Linked DNA regions of Homo sapiens: region 2 is linked to region 1. A link means that fine-mapping ties the variant in region 1 to the expression of a gene that starts in the linked region. Tissue or cell type: nasal epithelium. Region 1 holds a variant in brackets; the other region holds the start of a gene. All regions are shown on one strand. Distances are between the middles of the regions.

Region 1 (2,907 bases):
CAGCTGCCCACCCAGGCACCCAATCTCCAGGGTGAGCCGGCTCCTCTGTTACTGTGAAATGCTCCATATGAAAAAGTTCTGGCCAGATGTGGGGATTCACAACTGTAATCCCAACACTTCAGGAGGCAAGGCAGGAGGATCACTTGAGCTCAGGAGTTCAAGACCAGCCTGGACGACATAGTGAGACCCTATATCTACAAGAAAAAATTAGCCAGAAATGGTGGTGTGTGCCTGTAGTCCTAGCTACTCTGGAGGCTGAGGCAGGAGGATCACTTGAGCCCAGGAGTTTGAGGTTACAATGAGCTGTGATTGTGCCACTGCACTCTAGCCTGGGTGACAGAGGGAGACTGTGTCTCTAAAAATTAAAAAAAAAAGTTCTGAGGGTTTGAAAAGAATCTGTAAAATGCCACCATTACATTTTATTCGTGAAAGAAAAAAAGCTGTAGCTCCTATAAAGATAACTTACACTGTTGAAAATTTTTGGTCATTAAAAAATAAAAAAATTTATCACCTACTTGTATAAACAGTTTCTTATCGATGGTAAGTAGCAGGAAGTTGAAGAACTGATCATTAAAGTCTTGATCAGAACCTGATGGTGACTAGTTCAAACAAAAAAAACCCACCCCAAAATAGAAAGGTATGCTCATATCTATGAGCAAAATAAGTAATTATAAACATTGAAAAATGTTATTTGGAAGTTTAATATAAACTTAATATTAAATATCTATGCTCATATACAGTACTTTGTATTTTATATTTCTAATTTTAACAGCATAATGTAAAAAATGTACAATGAATAGTTCATCAAACACCCCACAGCCCTCTAAATCCTGTCCAGTATCTTCTGTGTGGTCTGAGCAGGGCTGGGGAGCCCGGGCCAGTTCTGCCGCAGGAGAGTGTAGAAAGCTGAGCCAGCTGTGGCTTCTGGCTTTTCTTGAGACATCAAGAAACGTAGCAGAGAAATTCACTTCAGCACACAGCGTGATGCACCCAAGTGTTGGTTAAAAGTGGTGTGATGAATGAGAATGAAGCTGGGCTACCATTGTTCTTCACATTTAAATCTCCGCACTGAGAATGTTGGTGTTCTTCTTAGCCACATCTGAATATTTGAAAATTTGGAAAGAACTAACTTTCAGATGATCCAGTCATTGGCAAACTCTCATACTGTCTTCTGAGCATAAACTGAAAACAGCGTTTCAAATTCTCTTTCATAGAAACTCAAATTACTTTTGTAAGTGGCTCTTGTAGGCAAAAAAAAGGGAGAGAGGAAACAGGAAGAAACAAGTCGGGTTAATTGTCTTAACCGTGCTGGGGCTCAGGATCAGGAGGTCGAAAGGACAAGGAAACAGACATATGCCAGAAGCACTCGTGACTGGCACGTTGAGACTTGCCCTCCCTTGTGAGGATTTTCTTTCTTTTGTGTTGTTTTTTTTTTCCTTTCTGTTGCTTTTCTTAATGAGTAGAAATGAGAATCAAGC[G/A]TCAGGGCAACTCTTGGAAAACAAAAAAAAAAAGACACCAAAGCACTCTTCATGGTGAGCCAGGCCATATGGTCAGAGGTGGGCTGGATAGGAGCTCACCCTGCCAGATGTCCTTGGGCAATCGTGGGCAGGTCACTTGACTTTCCTTGAGCCCCAGTTTTCTCAAGTGTTCAGTAAACATACCAATGCCTTTTTCTGCAACACCCTGTGTAAGAAGGGGAGGAGGCAAGGTCTTCGAAAGAATATTATACTCACAAGAGGCTGTTCTCAATTTGTGGCATCATTCCTTATGCAGTGCAAACCCAGCAACATTTGTCATATTCAAAATATTTTCAGCCAGGCGTGGTGGCTCACGCCTGTAATCCCAACACTTTTGATGGCCGAGGAGAGAGGATTGCTTGAACCTAGTAGTTCAAGACCAGCCTGGGCAACATAGGGAGACCCTGTCTCTATAAAAAATAAAAAAGAAATTAGCCAGGGATGGTGGCATGCAATTGTGGTCCCAGCTGCTCAGGAAGCTGAGGTGGGAGGATCACTTGAGCCTCAAAGCTCAAGGCTGCACTGGGCTGTAATCACACCATGGCACTCTAGATGGGGCAACAGAGCAAGACTCCATCTCAAAAAAAAAAAGAAAAAGAAACATTTTCCCTGATTGTTTCATCAACTCCCTCCAAAATAAACACAGTCATTCATAATTTGAAAAGAGAAAGAGATAGTATTTCGCCTTAGCCAGAAACGCACAGTTGGGGAAGTTCAGAGTGAAGGAGGAGGCCCTCAGTCCTCACCTCAAACAGCCACTGGGCTCAGGAGCTGGAACTACCTTCCTCTTGTCTATCCTGGGGTTTAGCTACTGATGATACAAGCCTCATTGCGCCTCTCCCCAATATGTGGGTTATGACAAGCAATGGTGGCTTGCTTTACCAGGAGCATTTGGGGACATGTGGTGGGTCAGAATGCTATCCCAGGAAGGGGATATTCCCTCTCTGCCTCCATGTCTGCCAGACCTAGCAGAGGTTCCCCACCTGGGAAATGGGCCAAACCACAGTCTCTTCTTTTACAGAGCAGGCTGATTCTAGCCAGACCAGTTCTGATTCATGAAAGTCAAGACTTTTGTAACTTTTCCTGGTCAATGGCAAAAGCAAGTTGGAACTTCTGCTGAGTCCGTGGGAAAGTAACTGACCCAATAATAAACTAGCTACAACAGCAACTTAACTTCTCTAAAGATGTTTAGTAACTGAGTGACAAATGAGAAAATGGGAAGTTTTGTTTTCTTTAATAAATGTTTCAATGATGCACAATGTTCCTATCCTTAGATTTTATTTTCTTTCTTTTAAAGCTCTAAGTGAGAATAGCAGCAAAACTCCCATTCTATTTAACTTTAAAAGGCATATATAATTACTTAATTTTTTGTTATTTAAATGCAATAATT
Region 2 (2,907 bases), 130 kb before region 1:
GCCCGCTTCCCTCCAAGCATACAGCGGCAGGCTCCTGTGAAGTCTATAAAACTGCTTGGTGTAATTTAGACTTGGCTACTCAGCGGCAGGGCTCATGTTGTCTTATTTATTTATTTATTTATTTATTTATTTTTGTTAAATTATGTAGACCCATAGGATAACACTGACCCTTCCAGTTTGGTGTTATCTTGTAGGCCTAAGGATGCATGGAGCTGACACCACACTGATTTTGCTTTTGCTGTCGGTGTAAGTAATAACCTGTCTAAACCCATCTGGGCTGCCTGTCTCCTTCCCGTAGCCAAATCTACGGGAAGTGTCCAGCCAGTGTAGGGGTCAAGGGACCGCTTGACGAGACCAACGTAAATTGAAGAGGCGTAAGGAGATGAGGCCAAAGAGGAAAGGGGACCAGGTCACGTAGAACCTCGTAGACCACTGCAGAACCTTGGCTTACGTACGCAGAGACAGCAGGAACCACTGATAGGTTTAGGGAGATTTGAGGAGAGGGACATGATTTGGCTTATGTTATGTTGTTAAAGGGACCACATTAAAATACATTCATTCTAAAAGTGTTACCTTTAAGAAACTACGTATATAAATTAAGTTACTGTTGCCATTATTAGCGTAAGTAGTTACATTTCTCTTACGACTCACTCTCTGCTACTGCCTCTTGGACCCTGCACACCTTGTGGAGGCCCATGAGAGTGACGTGCTGTGGTTCCCCCTCTCCCCACTCCTGCTCTGCACTTTGTCATTCACGTTCATCTCCCTCCTTGAGTGTCACCTCTCTCTGGCTCGTCACGGAGCCACGGCAAAGCGTCCTTTCCCAGGAACCCCTCCCCCTGGGGAGGTGAGCTCCTCGCCGCCAGGGCCGTGTCGCGCACCTCGGGCCGGGTACCCAGGCGGCGCTCGGCGGCGAGCGGAATGGATGTGGAGGAGCGCTCGGCAGGGAGCGCTGCCGCCCTGGCCTTGGCCTCTGGGAGCGGCGCGGCCAGGGTTTTCTGTGTCAGCCAAGCCCGGAATGCGGGGGCGCCTCTGGACCCTCCTCTTGGGTCTGGGGGCTGCCTCGGGCATCCTCTACTCCTCTCCCACCTTCTGTCCTTCCCCATCTCCCACCCACACGTGTGGGGCCCCGGACCCGCGCAGCGGCCAGAGCCTTCCGCTGTGGACCTCCAGTCCACCCCTCCCCTTCACTTCTCTTTCCGGCTCCCTCCGGGTCTCTCAGCCCCCTCCCCTTCCTCTCCGCCCCCTTCCCCGCCGTCTGCCCAGCGGCGGCCTTCGGCCCGCCCCTTCTCTCCAACCCCCTCCCTTTCCCCTTTACGCCCCTCCTCCCCCTCGTCCTCCCGCCCCCTCCCACCCCAACCTGCTGGGCCCGCCGGGACTCGCCCCCCTGCCCGCTCCTCTCCTCCAGCCCCGGCCGGCCTCGGCTCGGCCCCCGGCCCGCCCCTTCCAGCCCTCGGCACCTCCCGCCGGCCGCTTGGCTCCGCCACTCGGCACTCACTGCCCGGGCCGCCCGGACAGGGAGCTTCGCTGGCGCGCTTGGCCGGCGACAGGACAGGTTCGGGACGTCCATCTGTCCATCCGTCCGGAGAGAAATTACAGATCCGCAGCCCCGGGATGGGGCCGGCCCCGCTGCCGCTGCTGCTGGGCCTCTTCCTCCCCGCGCTCTGGCGTAGAGGTGAGTGCGCCCGGCTGGGGGCCAGGCGAGGGGGTGGGGGCTCCCAGGAGGAAGCAGGGGCCTCTGGGGAGGGAGCGCGTCCACAGGGGCGCGCCTGGCTGCTGGACAAGTTTGCAAACACCCTCCACCCACTGCGGTGCCAGAGGAGGGGGCGTAGGCGAACCTACCGTCCACTGACCGCGGCGCCTCAAGCGTCCCGAGGGCACCCAGCCTGGCTTGCGGGTGCGCATCGTGGTGAAGCCGGGTCGGGGTCGGCGTTGCAGGCTCCCCTCTTCACCGCAGAGGAGGAAATCGAGCTCGGCCGGGCGCGCTGCAAGTCCTGAAGTTCCGACGAGTGGAACGTAGGTAGCAGGTCTGGTCTGGGATGCGACGAGAACTTTCCACTAGAGTTGCATGGTGGGGCCCCGCTCTGGCCGGAGTCCCGGGGGCCACAGATCCGGTCTCCCGAGGGACCGGCGCGGGGCGAACGAACGGGCTGCGGGAGTCGGAGCCGCAGTCCGGGAGCCGCGATAGACTGAGGCCGAGCGACGGGCCAGGGGGGGACGGCAGTCCTGGCTGCTCCCAATGGGCCCTTACGGGCATTATTAGTATCCCTTTTTAGGGGCACCCAGAGAGTGTGGGAAAAGGGGAGCGTTCTTTTCACTCCTGTTATGGCAGAACAGAACTTACAGTGCTCGGCAGCGTTTACGTTTATCTGGATTCAGCGAAGTGTTGTTACAGGCTTTTTTTTTTTTAATTTGAGACCGAGTCTCGCCCTGTCGCCCAGGCTGGAGTGCCGCGGCGCGATCTCGGCTCACTGCAGGCTCCGCCTCCCGGGTTCAAGCGATTCTCCTGCCTCAGCCTCCCGAGTAGCTGAGACTATAGACGCGCGCTACCACGTCCGGCTAATTTTTGTATTTTTAGTAGAGACGGGGTTTCACCATGTTGGCCAGGATGGTCTCGATCTCTTGACCTCGTGATCTGCTCTCCTTGGCCTCCCAAAGTTCTGGGATTACAGTCGTGAGCCACCGCGCCCGGCTTGTTCCAGGCATTTTAATACAAGATGCTGGACTGATACGTGGAGGCAAGGAAGGCCGGTTTCATTCTGCTTGAACAGCTTATTTGGGGAGTGAGTGATGAACAGATTTCAAGTTTGATCGCTGATGCACTTCTTGAGGAGGCTGGAATAAACTTACCAGGCTTTACCCAAAAGAAAAAGAAAGGGGAAAAATGCTAAATAAACACATTCCAAG

The links.
Region 2: it holds the start of MERTK, and the variant in region 1 is fine-mapped to the expression of MERTK in nasal epithelium (TOPMed, PIP above 0.99).

What each region holds. Positions count from the first base shown.
Region 1 is chr2:112,030,737-112,033,643 of GRCh38, forward strand. No RefSeq gene overlaps it. Among named protein-coding and RNA genes, the nearest start is that of TMEM87B, 23 kb to the right of the region's middle. The variant G/A (reference allele first, on the strand shown) is at 1,479.
Region 2 is chr2:111,897,122-111,900,028 of GRCh38, forward strand. It overlaps MERTK (MER proto-oncogene, tyrosine kinase), which reads left to right and starts at 1,486. Exons shown (of 19, transcript NM_006343.3): 1 at 1,486-1,675. The coding sequence starts at 1,615. RefSeq lists an enhancer at 625-954.